2 separate regions of the Homo sapiens genome follow, and region 2 is linked to region 1. Evidence: fine-mapped expression QTL. Tissue or cell type: whole blood. Region 1 holds a variant in brackets; the other region holds the start of a gene. All regions are shown on one strand. Distances are from middle to middle.

Evidence for each region. PIP is the estimated chance that this variant, and not a neighbour inherited with it, causes the effect.
Region 2: it holds the start of RIDA, and the variant in region 1 is fine-mapped to the expression of RIDA in whole blood (INTERVAL, PIP 0.98).

What each region holds. Positions count from the first base shown.
Region 1 is chr8:98,091,977-98,100,160 of GRCh38, forward strand. It overlaps ERICH5 (glutamate rich 5), which reads left to right. Exons shown (of 3, transcript NM_173549.3): 3 at 1,245-1,633. The coding sequence ends at 1,357. Among named protein-coding and RNA genes, the nearest start is that of RIDA, 21 kb to the right of the region's middle. The variant G/C (reference allele first, on the strand shown) is at 3,735.
Region 2 is chr8:98,113,309-98,121,492 of GRCh38, forward strand. RIDA (reactive intermediate imine deaminase A) reads right to left here and starts at 3,863. Exons shown (of 6, transcript NM_005836.3): 1 at 3,724-3,863. The coding sequence starts at 3,788. It overlaps POP1 (POP1 ribonuclease P/MRP subunit), which reads left to right and starts at 3,985. Exons shown (of 16, transcript NM_001145860.2): 1 at 3,985-4,082. RefSeq lists enhancers at 3,968-4,017, 4,088-4,257.

The DNA.
Region 1 (8,184 bases):
CTTCTCTCTCTCTCTCCCCTTCCTTCCTTCCTTCCTTCCTTCCTTCCTTTCGAGACAAGATCTTCAAGCTGGAGTGCAGTGATGCAATCACAGCTCACTATAATCTCCAACTCCTGGACTGAAGGGATCCTCTTGCCCCAGCTCTCAAGTAGCTAGGACTACAGGAATGTGCCACCATGCCTGGCTAATTTTTTTTTCTTTTAAAAAATTATTACTTTTGAGACAGAGTCTTGCTCTGTTACTCAGGCTGGAGTGCAGTGGTATTCTTAGCTCATTGTAACTTCTGCCTCCCAGCTCAATCCATTCTCCCTCCTCGGCCTCCTGAGTAGCTGGGCGCCACCATCCCTGGTTAATTTTTGTATTTTTTGTAGAAACAAGGTTTTACCATGTTGGCCAGGCCGGTCTCAGACCCTAGGCTCAAGCAATCTGCCTGCCTCAGCTTTCCAAATTGCTGGGATTATAGGCGTGAGCCACCACGCCCAGCTGTCCAGCTAATTTTTGAAAAATATTTTGTAAAGACAGGAGGTCTTGTTGCCCAGGCTGGTCTTGAACTCCTGGCCTCAAGTGATCCTCTTGCCTCAGCTTGCCAAAGCATTGGGATTACAGGTGGGAACCATCACACCTGGCCATGAACTTTCTATTATAATCTGTTCTACCACCATTTCTTTGGTAATTTTGCATCCTGATTTTATAGAGAGCATTTCTTTCATAAGAGTATGCCAAGACTCGAGATGTTAATTGACTCGACATTTCAGCCATTCAGAGGCTCTGAGAGAATCGAGATGATTACTTTTCTTTTCCTTTTTTTTTTTTTTTTGAGACAGAGTCTCGTTCTGTCGCCCAGACTGGAGTGCAGTGGCGTGATCTCAGCTCACTGCAACTTCTGCCTCCCGGCTTCAAGTGATTCTCTTGCCTCAGCCCCCCGAGTAGCTGGGATTACAGGCTTGTGCCACCATGCCTAGCTAATTTTTGTATTTTTAGTAGAGACGGGGTTTCATTACTTTGGGCTAGGCTCCTGAACTCCTGACCTCAGGCAATCCGCCTTCCTTGGCCTCCCAATGTGTTGGATTACAGGTGTTAGCCACGGTGCCCAGCTGAGATGATTACTTTTCTTGATACCCCCAGAGAAACTTACTGCTTAGACCTGAAGATCAAGAACTGCCCCCATTGGAGACAAACTGTGGGATAATTTATGTTAATTCTAAATAAATGTCTCTTAGTATCTCCTTTGGTTACTTTTCCAGGTGAGACAGGGGAAAAGGTGGAAACAGACATGGAGAATGAGAAAGTGAGTGAAGGGGCTGAAACCAAAGAAGAAGAAACAGGAGAAGTGGTGGACCTTTCAGCAGCCACATAGATAGAAGAGTGAACCGACACAGTGTGTTATCATAGAGGAGACAAAAATGGTAGTGAAGCTTGTGGTTATGTATCTTATCTTTCTACATTTACATGTTTTCTGTAAGGAGTGTGGTTATAGAGAGACTGTTGGAACCATGAGAAGGATGTTTCTGTGTTCTTGATTATATTGTTCTGCAAAACTGCTAAGCCATGAACAGTTTTCTTAGCTACTTAGAATGGTTATACATTTAAAAGTATAAAAACCAAAGCCAATAAAAATGATGTGATTATTTAAGAGTGTGAGGGTGACTTTCTTCATTGTGGCCATGGGGCCATTCAGTATAGAAAATGAGACCCTAAAAAGAAAGTGTAAACCTTTAGGTACAAGTGGCTAGAGAAAGGAGTTAGCAAATTTTAGGGAACTCACAATAATAAAGTCACACAATTATAATCATGATGGAATGAGAATGAACAACAGCAAAAATAATAGGATGAACTATACCAAATATTTCTGTCTTGTTATAGAATTCAGAGCTGATAAGAACCTTAGGAAGTATGTCATCTACACATTTGCTCTCCTTTAAGCTTGTCAACTACCACAGATCCTTATTTATCATGGAATATTAAATATGTTAACAGAATCCTTTGCAAAGGATTGCAACTCTGGTGCTATCACAAGGTTAGACATTTTTCATGATGAAAGGCTACACATTTTCCATGTGCCATTTCGAATCAGCTGTTGATTTTATACTCACATGAGGTTTTTCAATTGGTGTTATCCTTTTGAATAACATTAAAAGTATTTTTAATTAATTCACTTTTAAATGTATTTTGGAGACAATAAACAGCAAGGATTAAAACCTAGATTGTTGCTTATGTAGAGTCTATTCCTGGGCTCTACTCTTTTTTTCTTTTTTTTTTGGACATGGAGTCTTGCTCCGTCACCTAGGCTGGCGTGCAGTGGTGCGATCTCGGCTCACTGCAACCTCTGCCTCCTGGGATCAAACAATTCTCCTGCCTTAGCCTCCCGAGTAGCTAGGATTACAGGTGCTTGCTACCATGCCCAGATAATTTTTGTATTTTTGGTACAGATGGGAATTCACTATGCTGGCCAGGCAGGTCTTGAACTCCTGACCTTGTGATCCGCCTCCCAAAGTGCTGGGATTACATGTGTGAGCCATTGCACCTGGCCACTCTATTCTTTTTTAGATGACTGCAATTTAATGGTAGGCTTTAGTGATGGAAAAAGGCTAAGAAATCAAGATTTTAGAAGCATTTATGAGATTTCTTTAGTGATGCACCACAGAGTCAGTTTTTGAGAATTCTTCTGAAGTTGGCAAGGGATTTTGGCAAATGATTGTATGTGAATAATAAAAATAATAGCTAACTTGCCTACCAGTGAGTGTCTTGTGTGTTTGAGTATCAGAATAGAATTCTGGAAACATTTTGTTTATTTATCTTGTTTGTAAATAGGTATTTTTCTTTTTTAAAAAAATTCCTACTATTTCCTAAGTAAATATGTATTTTTAAGGTAACTGCTCAGATGAATTAACTAGTCTCTTTATTTTTATTTTTTATTTTTTGAGACAGGGTCTTGCTCTGTTGCCCAGGCTGCAGTGTAGTGGTGTGATCATGGCTGACTGCAAACTTGACTTCCTGGGCTCAAGCAATCCTCCCACCTCACCTCTCCTGAGTAGCTGGGACTACAGGCATGTGCCACCATGCCGGGCTAATTTTTGTATTTTTAGTAGAGACAGGGTTTCACCATGTTGCCCAGGCTGGTCTCGAACTCTTGAGCTCAAGCAATTCACCTGTCTCAGTCTCCCAAAGTGCTGGGACTACAGGCGTGAGCCACCCGGCCTAACTAGTCTCTTACTTTAGCTTCTACATTAAAATAACTACTAAGATGGCCTATAATTAATTATAAGAATATAGGATACAGGGAAAAACATATTCTCTTGATTCTGATTTTAATATTAATTTATGTTCTGACTGTAAAGTGCCGAGGAAGACAATAAAAGGAGTTCCCTGAGGAGATGACATCATCCTTTCTGCAAAGTAAAGGCACTGGATTGTGATTGCATTGAAGGCAAGCACTGTGTTTTATGTATTTTTGAATTCAGGCATTTAGCTCCTTTAATGGAATGTGGTACATACTTGATAAATATTTGTTGAATCAGTAAATGAATAACAAATACCAAGGAGTCCCATTTATACTTAATTCATTAAAAAATAATACATATAAAATATAAATTTGGCTGGGCATGGTGGCTCACGCCTGTAATCCCAGCACTTTGGGAGGCCAAGGCGGTGGATCTCTTGAGTCCAGGAGTTCAAGACCAGCCTGGGCAACACGGTGAGACCCCATCTCTACAAAAAATATAAAAAATTAGCTG[G/C]GCATGATGCCATGTGCCTGTAGTCCCAGCTACTCAGGAGGCTGAGACTCAAATCTTTTATTTTCATAAAATTTTGGAAATTTATAAAAATTTCTGGTACTTTCTCTACTTTTGTCTTTATTCTTTAATGTGGTAACTAAAACACTTTTGGAAACTTTTTTTTATTCTTTTAGATAATATTCAGTTTTAACATTAAAAACCTATAAGGAAAATTTAAATATTTCACAATATCTGAACATTCCAAAATTTAAATATTCCATCAAAATAACCTGTTAATTTTAAAAAGTAATAAATATCTATGGTAAAAGTGAAATATAGAAGGGTATAAAATAGGTAGTGAAGTTTCCTTCCCATATCCTTTAGTCCTTCCATGAAAAAATAATATTTCTTGTGTATACTTCCAGAAAAAAAGGTATATGTATATACCAGGCTATATGTATATGCTAAAATATAAGTGTATATTTACATATCTACATTTTGACTTTTTTATAGATGGGGTCTTGCTATGTTGTCTATGCTGGTCTCAAATTCTTGGCCTCAGATGATTCTTCTGCCTGGGTCTCCCAAAGTGCTAGAATTACAGGCATGAGCCACCACGCTCAGTCTACATATCCACATTTTAAAACACAAATGACAATTTACATAGCCCCTGTACTGTGAAGACTGCATGTAAAACCACTGCTTGATCCTTTCCTATGTTAGAAATTTTTCCTTTTGCCCAAGACTGAGTCTTAACAGAGCAAAATGTATTCTGATCATAGGTCCCCAGACCCTGAAAGAAGATTACCGGTTTTGCCCTCAGATTCAAAATGCACAAGATGGACAAAAGGCTTGAGTTGTTCATAGAGAAACTGCCAGCAGGGCTGGATTTTTCTATCCCTGGGGTGCTGTGCAACCACTTTGTAGTCCAGTTGTGTTCTTTTAATTAAGATAACTTCATTATTTCTGTACCTGATGTACCTAACTGGGATGGAAATGAACAAATTTCCCAACTCTCATTCTTGGGAGTGAACATTTGCATTTACCAGCAGTGGGTGCCAGTTTGCAAATCTAGGAAATACCCAGACCAGACTCAAATTCTTGGCCAGAAGTGCCAACCCCCTGAGGCACCCACAGGGTAGAAATGTGTAGTCAATGGCTGGGTGTGGTGGCCCATACCTGTAATCCCAGCCCTTTGGGAGGCCAAGTCAGGAAAATCACTTGAGCCCAGGAGTTCGGGACCAGCCTGGGCAATATAGGGAGACCCTGTCTCTACATTAAATAAATAAATAAATTATTTTATTTATTTATTTTTTTAAAAGAAGAAATGTGCGGTCAACCTATTATATTACCTTACTGCTTTTTCCATTTAGACTGTGGAGTAAAAGCTCTTACCATATTTTGAGCAGTCAAAACACCCACACCACTCTGAACAAATGCTTTATTCCACATTGGGCCTTGAATTAAGAATTGCTTAATTAAGAAAATGTTTCTTTCCACATTTAACTAATCAAAGAATGTTGGATGGTCATGGTAAAATAATCCTAGTAGGGTTTACAATGTACTCTTTTGGCAAATACAATAGCTTGTTAGAGATGGCAAATATCTTTTTTTTTTTTTTTTGGTCATCCAGGCTGGAGTGCAGTGGTGTGCTCTGGTCACTGCAACCTCTGCCTCCCAGTTTCAAGTGATTCTCCTGCTTCAGCCTCCTGAGTAGCTGGGATTACAGGCAGGCGCCACCACGCCTGGCTAATGTTTGCATTTTTAGTAGAGACAGGATCTTACTATGTTGGCCAGGCTGGTCTTGAACTCCTGAGCTTAAGCAATTCTCCTGCCTTGGCCTCCCAAAGTGCTGGGATTACAGGCTGAACCCCTGCACCCGGCTGAGTATCCTATTTTTATGAAGATAGTTTGGTGATCCAATTCCGAATTCTCTTTCACAAAGGCCAGCGATGTGGACATCATAAAGCCATTCATTTGCCCACACACATTTGTAAGGTAAAAGGAGAATGACCCTTCCCTTCTTCTTTCTTCCCACACCAGATAGCAAGGCATGCTGTGTTTGAAATGTTGAAAGCATTTGCTTATAAGATGTCATTACATCTAAAACTATGTCAGCTTTTCACCTCTCCAGAGTTTATAAACTTATGAGTGTTTGGTTATAATCTCAAGGCTTTAATTGCCTATGCAGAATTGGTGTAATTTTAGAGAGCAGCTGACAAGTATGGAATTTCCCTTCCAGTTCCTTTTAGTATCAACAAAAGTTGGCATTAGTAATCCATGTACAGGCAAATTGCAGGCTTTTTGCTTTACTGGTCAGTACCACCACTCAGCACATTTATTGGGGAACATTTGAGTTGTTAAAAGTTAACAACCATATCATTATTCTTGTGCCTAATGAAAGAGGTCTCTGGACATCAAAGCCAGGGTTTAATAACTCCCAAAGGTAGAAGAAAGGCCAACCTATATTATTCTAAAATACTCCTTCGGTTTAATAATGTGCTACTGAAATTAATAAACATGCTACTTCCATCCACCACTGCGGACAGAGGTCTGCAAACCTCACTAATTTCCAGAAAAAGATTTCTGAGAAACCAACTGGGGATACCAATTTTGTTTTGAGATCTGCCTCATTTTGTTTTCTCATAGAATATAGACATTTCTAAAATTTCTTTTCTTTTCTTTTCTTTTTTTTTTTGAGACAGAGTCTTGCTCTATCTCCCAGGCTGGAGTGCAATGGCATGATCTCGGCTCACTGCAACCTTCACTTCGTGAGTTCAAGCCATTCTCCTGCCTCAGCCTCCCAAGTAGCTGGGACTACAGGCATGTACCACCAGGCCCGATTAATTTTTGTATTTTTAGTAGCGAGGGGTTTCACCATGTTGGTCAGGCTGGTCTCGAAATCCTGACCTCGAGTGATCTGCCTGCCTCAGCCTCCCAAAGTGCTGGGGTTACAGGCATAAGACACCACGCCTGGCCTTAAAATTTCTTAATAAAAGTAAGTATGGCGATTCATACTATCACATAAATTTAAAATGATGCATGTTGTATTGAATTGATTTGTGTGATTCTAAACACTTTTTTTTTTTTTTTTTAGACAGAGTCCCACTCTGTCACCCAGGCTGGAGTGCAGTGGCTCCAGCAACTTCTGCCGCCTGGGTTCAAGTCATTCTCCTGCCTCAGCCTCCCGAGTAGCTGGGACTACAGGTGCACGCCACTACACCCACCTAATTTTTGTATTTTTAGTAGAGACGGGGTCTCACCAAGTTGGCCAGGCTAGTCTCGGACTCCCAACTTCAGGTGATCCGCCCGCCTTGGCCTCCCAAAGTGCTGGGATTACAGGCATGAGCCACCACACCCAGCCCTGATTCTTTTTTTTTTTTTTTTTTTTTTTTTTTGAGATGGAGTTTCACCCTTGTAACCCAGGCTGGAGTGCAGTGGTGCGATCTCAGCTCACTGCAACCTCCGCCTCCCGGGTTCAAGCGATTCTCCTGCCTCAGCCTCCTGAGTAGCTGGGATTATAGCCTCTAAACACTTTTAAAAGAGTCATTTTGGCTGGGCACGGTGGCTCACGCCTGTAATCCCAGCACTTTGGGTGGCCGAGGCAGGCAGATCACGAGGTCAGGAGTTCCAGACCAGCCTGGCCAACATGGTGAAACCCCGTCTCTACTAAAAATACAAAAATTAGCTGAGTGTGATGTCGGGCACCTGTATCGGGAGGCTGAGGCAGGAGAATCGTTTGAACCCAGGAGGCGGAGGTTGGAGTGAGCTGAGATGCGCCACTGCACTCCAGCCTGGGCGACAGGGTGAGACTCCATTTCAAAAAAGAAAAAAAAAGAGTCGTTCAATGACAAGAGAAGAGGCTTTCCATGGCAGCTGTACTGTTGTAGAGTAGCTTTGGGTTGGAGAGAGGGTTTGGGGCCCAGCACCTCACTAGAAAGTCACAAGGCCCAATGGTGACTTTTCCAACCACCACCACACCCTTAGCAGTTCAGTGGAGAACAAAGTAATAGTGATTTCAGATAGCAGTTATTTAGTGGATCAGTATAGATTATCTTCAAGTTTCTGGATATAAGAGTTTTTAAACAACATTTTTTTGGTGTTCTTGGCGGGGGTAGAAATAACACTTTCTGCCTAGGTACTTATATGTAACAGAATGACTATTTTAGGCAATAATTACAAAAGAAGGATGTTATTAAAATAATTACTTTTTTCTTAGTATAAAACAATACATGTTCACTGTAGAAACTTCAGAAAATATAAACTTTAAAAGATGAAATATTACCCATAATTCATCAAAGATGATCACTGTTAGTATGTTGATGGACATGAGGGATTATTTTTTTAATTGCAAAACTTGTTGCAATAACAAGTTAGTCAAAGCACAACTATCAATAGAATTTTGAGTCTGTTGAGTCAATGAGTCAGCACTTAATCCATTGGAGATAATAGGTCATAGAGAATGTTCCAG
Region 2 (8,184 bases), 21 kb after region 1:
ATTTGAATTCTTCCTGGAGAGGACCCAGGATTTTCAAAAAGTGTACTCACTACACACTCCACGCACAAAAACTCTTGTTCCCAAAAGGTTCCTAAAACATGTCCAATTAACATAAGTAGTTAGTTGCAGTCTGTTTTTTTTCTTAAACATTAACTATTGAAAATAAGCACCATTTCTAGTCACCTAGTGCACAAGAGGCACAATGTCCTGGAAGTCTCCACACCATGAAGCTGGCTGGTGGCTTTTTTTCTTGTCATACTGGCACATTCATATGATGATTCCCCTCTTTTTAGCTTTCAGCTTTATAAAGACAGTTGACTCCCACCTACCTTCAAGTCAACCAGGAACATTACTGTTATGCTTTCTTTCCTGAACAAAGTCCACAGAGTATCTCTAAATAGGTCAAGGAAGGGGTATGCTCTTTAGCAGGCTCCAGGACAAAGTGTCTCTAATAATCACTTTGATTTGGTTGTGTCCCTCTTGTTTGGAGGTAAAGATGTTTTTCTAAATGCTACCACTGTGTGATTGAGAGAAAGACATTAGGGCAGAAGGAGAAAAAAAATCACAAATTTTTACTTATAATATCCCCTAACTATTCTCACTTTCTTTACCTCCAAATTTCTATCAGAATTACTATCAGAATTCTTTTTAAAAGATCTGATCATGTTCCACCCTGCTTAAAAACATTTAGCCTGGGCAACATGGTAAAACCCCAGCTCTATAAAAAATACAAAAATTATCTGGGCATGGTGGCCTGAGCCTGTAGCCCCAGCTACTTGGGAAGCTGAGGTGGGAGGATGGCTTGAGCCCGGGAGGTTGAGGCGACAATAAGCTGTGATCCCGGCTCCAGCCTGGGTGACACAGCGAAACACTGTCTCAATATACACACATACAAACACACAACCACAACAACCACAAGAAAAAAACCACATTTAATTGTTCCTTATTATATACAAAATAAAGTTTATATTCTTCCATTTAGTATTGGAAACCACCACAACCTGTACCCTGCTAAAATCTTTTTTTTTTTTTTTTGAGACAGAGTCTCGCTCTGTAGCCCAGGCTGGAGTGCAGTGGTGCGATCTTGGCTCACCGCGACCTCTGCCTTCCAGGTTCAAGCAATTCACTGCCTCAGCCTCCCGAGTAGCTGAGATTACAGGCATACGCCACTATACCCAGCTAATTTTTTTTTTTTTTTGGTATTTTTAGTAGAGACGGGGTTTCACCATCTTGGCCAGGCTGGTCTTGAACTCCTGAGCTTGTGATCCACCTGCCTCGGCCTCCCAAAGTGCTGGGATTACAGGTGTGAACCACTGTGCCTGGCCAAAATCTAATTTTTGTTGGTCACTTTTATTTAATTCCCACAATAATCTTATCAAATGGTATTATTTATGCCCATTGAGAAGACAAAGAAGCAAACTAAGAGAGGTTAAGTCACTCTGCAAGATCATATAATTAAAAAGAGGCAAAACAAAAATTCAAATCCAAAGTCCAACTCTTAATCAGTATTTCTCAAAGGAGTCAGTCATACACAGTAAGACTTATACACAGTCTTACATAGTAAGAAAATGATTCCTTTTCCAATTTTTTTTTTCAATCTACACCAGGGACAACAAAGTAAATGATTAAGACTAGGCTCTAGTACCCATTTCCTAAATTCAAATTTTGTTACATCACTTTTTAGTGGTGTAACTTTTGGCAAATTATTTAATTTTGCACACATCAGTTTCTTCATCTGAAAAATAGGGACTATAATATAACCATGCACATAAATAACTTAGAACAGTGCCTGGTGCTGGCCAGGCATGGTGGCTGACACCTGTAATCCGAGTACTTTGGGAAGCCGAGGTAGGTGGATCGCTTTAGGTCAGGAGTTCAATACCAGCCTGACCAACACAGTGAAACCCTGTCTCTACTAAAAATACAAAAATTAGCCGGGTGTGGTGGCACCTGCCTGTAATCCCAGCTACTTGGGAGGCTGAGACATGAGAATCACTTGAATCTGTGGGGTGGAGGTTGCAGTGAGCTGAGATTGCACCACTGCACTCTAGCCTGGGCAACAGAGTGAGACTCTGCCTCCAAAAAAAAAAAAAAAAAAAAAAAAAAAGGGATAGTGCCCAATGCTGCTGAGTAAGCATCAGTAAATGTTAGCAATGATGACTCTACCCCGTTTGATTACATTAAGGAGAAAAAAAATCATCTTTAGAAAACAAATTAAAACATCACTTGAAAGTTTTTAATTAAACTTTTTTTTTTTTTTAAATAGAGATGGGGGTCTCACTATGTTGCCCAGGCTGGTCTTGAACTCCTGACCTCAAGCAATCCTCTTACCTCGGCCTCCCACAGTGCTGGGATTACAGGCGTGAACCACAGTACCCGGCTAAAGAAACATCACTCTTAACAAAGAGAGAGCAGGCCTCAGGTTTTGAGCCAACTGCAATATCTAGCTAAAATTTAATAATACCTTTTTTTAATTGAGTTTATTTTTTACTATTACTTTCTATTGAATTGTTTTCTATTTAGTGTACTGTTGTAAAGTTTCCTTTTTCAATTAACTTGTTAAATAAAATGAAGTGAGCCATCTCAAAGAAATAGGTTAAGTAAATTATAAGTGATATACAGATTTGGCAAACAAACAAACAAAAAAGACAGAAGTAGCACTTGAATTATGAAAACTTTCTCCCCAAAATCTTTATACCATGCATTCTTCTACCTCCATGCCCTCACTCAAGCCATTCCCTCTACCTGACTTCTACCTCCATGCCCTTCACTCAATGACTTCCTGTTGAAATCCTTAATAAATTAATTTAAAAATCAAACTTTACAACACTACTATAAATGACAAAACCAACCTTCAAAACCAAAGGACTACCTCTCACAAGGAACCTTCCTAAATCTTCTTTTTCCTCTTCCACCCCAAGTTAAAATCAATTTGTCTTTTTTCTCCTTTACTCCCTACCCCACTTGCCCTCTCACTTCTACTGCATTTTATTTATTTCCAAGTTTTCTATAATAATTCCTGTTCTGCCACATCTCAGTGCCTTTTCTCACAGCAGTAGGTTTAAAGGAGGGAGCTGTTGATGGGGCTCTTTTCAGTTGGGAGAGAGGCAGACCAAGTATGAAGCTAATGAAAGAAGTTGGTCATAAAGGACTGCATGTTTTATGATTCAATTTATAGGAAATGTCCACAACAAGCAAATCCATGAAGATGCAAGTAGATTGTCAGGGGCCGGGGGAGAGGAGAATGGGGAGTGAATGCTAATGGGGATGGGATTTATTTTTGGGGTGATGAAAATGTTCTGAAGAAAGTGGTGATGGCTGCACAACTCTGTGAGTATGGTCAAAACCACTGAATTGTACATGTTAAAGGGGGTGAATCTTACGGTACGTGAATTATATCTCAATAAAGCTGTTACCAAGAAAACAAAAACGACCCCCTCCCCCAAAACAAAACACAGGGTCTGAAGGCTTCTAACTGGGGAGAGCTTTCTGGCAGGCTGTGCTCCGCAGCGAGGCAGCCCCAGAACGAGCAAAGTCCCATGGAGTGCAGGTTCCTGGTCCCATCGTGGCTCCCAACTCTCTGTGGGTCTTCGGGCGCGTTGCTTACTTTCCAGGCTCAATTTCCTTGCGTGTTAGCTGGGGCTCCGGCCCGGAGTGGCCCCAACCCCGAATCCCCGAACCCGCACGCCCTGGGTCCGACACAGCTTCCACCAGCCACGTTACCTGTAGGGTCCAATGGCCCCTGGGGCTTTCGCGGTGCTGATCACCCTTCTGATCAAGGACGACATGGCTAAGCCTTCCCTCTTGCAGCCCCTTCAGGAGAAGAAGCCCCAGCACCAGCCCTGCTGGCTTCTTACTGGACTGACCAACCACAGCAGCGCCTCTGCCCCACAGCTCCCGCTGGGGGCGGGCTCGTGCGGCATTCTGGGAACTGTAGTTTCGGCGACGCTCCAGGCCACGTGGAGGAAGCGCCCGGTCTGGCGCATGCGCTCTCCAGCGCGCTCTCCAGGAGCTTTGGCTCGGTGGGTACTGTCGCGGAGGCTTGTCATTCTGACCCGGGGATTCCTCACAGCGTCTGGCAGGTTGGTCGTGAGGGGCTGGTGCCTTCCAGGATGCGAGTGTCGGGGGAACTGTATGCGGCGGCCCCCCTCCCGGCGCCCGTCTCCCCTCTTCATCGTTTCTCTCTCAGACTCCGCTGACCTCTTTCCTTGCTGCCTGTGCCCGGGGCCCCTCTCCCTGGTGTCGCATCTCCTTCGGCCCCTGCGCTGGAGCCCCCTACGTCAGTCATTTCCCTTCATTGCCCCGCCGGGTGGAGGCCGTCCTGGGAATGGGCTTGCATCCCCTCTTCTGCAACCCCAAATGACTAATATGGGTCATTCTGGCGACCACGCTGAGATCTGGGCGTTGGTCCTCCCGTGTTCCCTTTCCTGCTCCTCCTGTGTTCCCTTCTCTAGGGTGCTCCTCGGGCTTTACAAGGTCACTGTCTGAACAGAGCCCTAGTGATTGGGATATCATTTCAGAAAGAAAGATGGTGATCTGGAATGGCCCAGATCCCTTGTAAGTATTCTGCTGTGTCAGAAGGGGTGGTACTTGGCTAAATATTTCTTATCCTGTTAATATTTGCATTGTAAGTACGCTTCGTTTCTTCATTTATGCGGGCACTCATAGATATATGAGTCCCTACTTTGTGTAAGGCACTCTGCTAGATGCTAGGAGGAATGCAACAGTTAAAAAAAATAATAATAAAATCTCTGCCTTCCCTGCTTCCTAAAGATAATACAAGAAAATCTGCTTTATTCCCTCTCATTTTGTCCTACATACTGCTAAGGTTTTGGCCTTCCTACTTCCGGCTCAGGAACCTTCTGATCTTTTTCATTGGTTTGGGGCCTGGAATAAAAGACCTTTCAGTCTGGCCTCCCCTTGCCTATTCAAGTTTCATTGTCATCTACTCCCTTTTCCCACTAGAGTCCTCCTGTATTCACACTGTGGATTCCTGAATACTCTTTCTTCCTTATCTGTGCAAATTCCAGCTAACTGAAATTCTATTTTCTCTTTGACTTTTCCTACCAATTCACATTTTTTTCTTTTTCTTCTTTCCTTCCTTTCCTTTTCTTTTTCTTTGTTTTCTTTCTTTCAAGACAGGATCTCACTCTGTCACCCTGGCTGGAGTACAGTGGCATGATCTTGGCTCACTGAAACCTTGACCTCCTGGGCTGAAGCAATCCTCCAGCCTGAGCATCTCAAGTAGTTGGGATTACAAGTGCACACCAGCACGCCCGGCTAATTTTTGTATTTTCTGTGGAGACGGGGCTTCTTCATATTGGCCAGGCTGGTCTCCAACTCTTGGGCTCAAGCAATTCTCCCACCTCAGCCTCCCAAAGTGCAGGGATTACAGGTGTAACCATTATGCCCGGCCTCATTTTTTTTCTTTCCCTTGTCCTGTTTCCTATTGTGCTGTACCGCATAATTTAGTATTTTATTATATGAGATCCTATTTTCTAATTGTTATGTGTTTCAAGAATAGTGGATTGGAGAGGGAAGGGGTGGAAAAAAAAAAAAGAATAGTGGATAGAGTCAGACTGCCTGGTTTGAATCTCAGCACAATCACAAGCTTAGTAGCCTTGGACTGGTATATAAAATCTCTGTGCTTCGATTTCTTCATTTATAAGATGAGAATAATACTAGTGACCACAGAGTTGTGAGAATTAAATGAATAAGTCATGTAGAATAGTGCCTGCCACATCAAGTTCTCAATGCTGCCTAAGATGACAAAATTCTTATTCTACTTTGGAATTATACACAGCCTGAAACTATTGGGCACATAGTAGGTGCCCAAAAGTTTATTAAATCTGATTAAACTAGATAATTAAGACATATTTTTATTTACAAAATAATTCACCATTTAAGTTTTTAAATAAGAAGCTATTTTGGAGCATTACAAATGATTCAACTTGTGTAAAATATTTCTTGTGAAACAAGGTACCTTTATTCTTAAGACAGATTTTATATCAAGTCTGAATCACCAACTTTTTAGATCTGGAAGAAAATAGACATCATCTAGTTAGTTCCCAGGTTCTCAAACTGGGAACTAACTAACACCAAAGGTTGTGTCTGGCCAGAGGATACTAAGCTGTATCAGAAAACATAACGTATCCATTTTATTTGAAGATTTGGCGAAAATATTTTTATAAAGGCAGCACATATTTAGTGCTTATTAAAGTTTGACAAAACTGACTTGAAGGTGAAGGTAAGAGTTAAGATTCCTTCTGGAAACTTTTTTTTTTGAGACAGGGTCTTGCTCTGTCACCCAGGCTGGAGTGCAGTAATGTGATCAAGGCTCACTCACTGCAGCCTTGACCTCCCTGTCTCAAGCGATCTTCCCACTTCAGCCTCCCGAGTAGGTGGGACCACAAGCTCATAACTATGCCTAGCTTATTTTTTGATTTCTTTGTAGGGATGAGTTCTCACTATGTTGCTCAGGTTGGTTTCTCCTGAGCTCAAGCAATCCTCCCGCCTTGGCCTCCCAAAGTGCTGGGATTATAGATGTGAACCACCACACCAGGCCTCTGGAAACTTTTAAATTAAATCCTCAGACTTCATAAAGATGCATCCTATATTCATTCCCTTCTGCTGTTAGAGGACCACTGCCAGTTTGATTTCCTCATATTTTAGTCTGGACCCAAAGCTCAGGGATGTTCCCAAGGTTATCCTAATCCTCCAGCACCAACCTTTTCTTGGACCATTCTAATACTGAGGGGAGCTAGAGTTTCTATGGTGTTCTTGTCTAGCCTTGCTGGTGAGTTCTGATTCAAGCAGGTAACAGTAGGTTAACTAAGTTGTTTTGTAAAATATTTGGAATGGCTTTTAATGCAGACCGATCTGAATCATGTGCTTCACTAGCCAGCCAGTTCTGCAGAACTCCATTTACTTCCTTCATACTGTTTAATTTGAAAAATGTTTTTGCATGTAGATATAGCTGTCTTTCATTTAGTTGAAATTAGTGGAGTGAGACAGTGAAATGGCATCAATCCCTGCTATTTCATTTATTATTTAAGAATAATAGCTACCATAAACTGAGCATTTAGTTAGCATAAAGCCCCATGCTAAGTGAGTTGTGTATATGCATTTTGCAAAGCCAAAACCATGTACAGTATGTATATGTTTGTTCATTTTTTTATTTTGAGACAGAGTCTCACTCTATCGCCCAGGCTGGAGTGCAGTGGCGTGATCTCGGCTCACCACAATCTCCGCCTCCTGGGTTCAAAGGATTCTCGTGCCTCAGCCTCCCGAGCAGCTGGGATTACAAGCGCATGCCATCACACGTGGCTCATTTTTGTATTTTTTTTTTTTTTTCTTGAGACGGAGTCTTGCTCCGTCGCCCAGGCTGGAGTGCAGTGGCGCGATCTCGGCTCACTGGAAGCTCCGCCTACCGGGTTCACGCCATTCTCCTGCCTCAGCCTCCCGAGTAGCTGGGACTACAGGCGCCCGCCAACACGCCCGGCTAATTTTTTGTATTTTTAGTAGAGACGGGGTTTCACTGTGTTAGCCAGGATGGTCTTGATCTCCTGACCTTGTGATCCTTCTGCCTCGGCCTTCCAAAGTGCTGGGATTACAGGCGTGAACCACCGCTCCCGGCCTCATTTTTGTATTTTTTAGTAGAGATGGGATTTCACCATGTTTGCCAGGCTGGTCTTGAACTCCTGGCCTCAAGTGATCCACTCGCCTTGGCCTCCCATAGTGCTGGGATTACAGGCATAAGCCATCCCACCTGGCCTGTATATAATGTTTAATTCTCACAGCAACTTGTAGAGGAAGAGGCTGAGGCTGAAAGTGAGAAAGTAATTTTCCTAAGATTATGTAACTAAAAAGTGTAAAGAAGGAATTTGAACCCACATCTTTCAAACTCCATAGTGAAAGCCCTTAAACACTATACCATATAGGCAAGTCTTAATTTTGTGTGAGGTCTTGCATTGGAAAAGGAAGTAAGTGAATGGGGGGTAATTTAGTGGCTCTCAGTGGAAGTGGGCAAATTCTGATGTGGCTGGCATTTTGGAAGTTTGTGTAGGTGTTTTGGTTGGCATAATTGGGCTAACATTGCTGGCATTTATTGGGCAGGGACCAGGGATATTAGACAGCCTGCTATGTGCAGAAAAGCCCCACAGTAGCCCAGTACCTAATTTATAT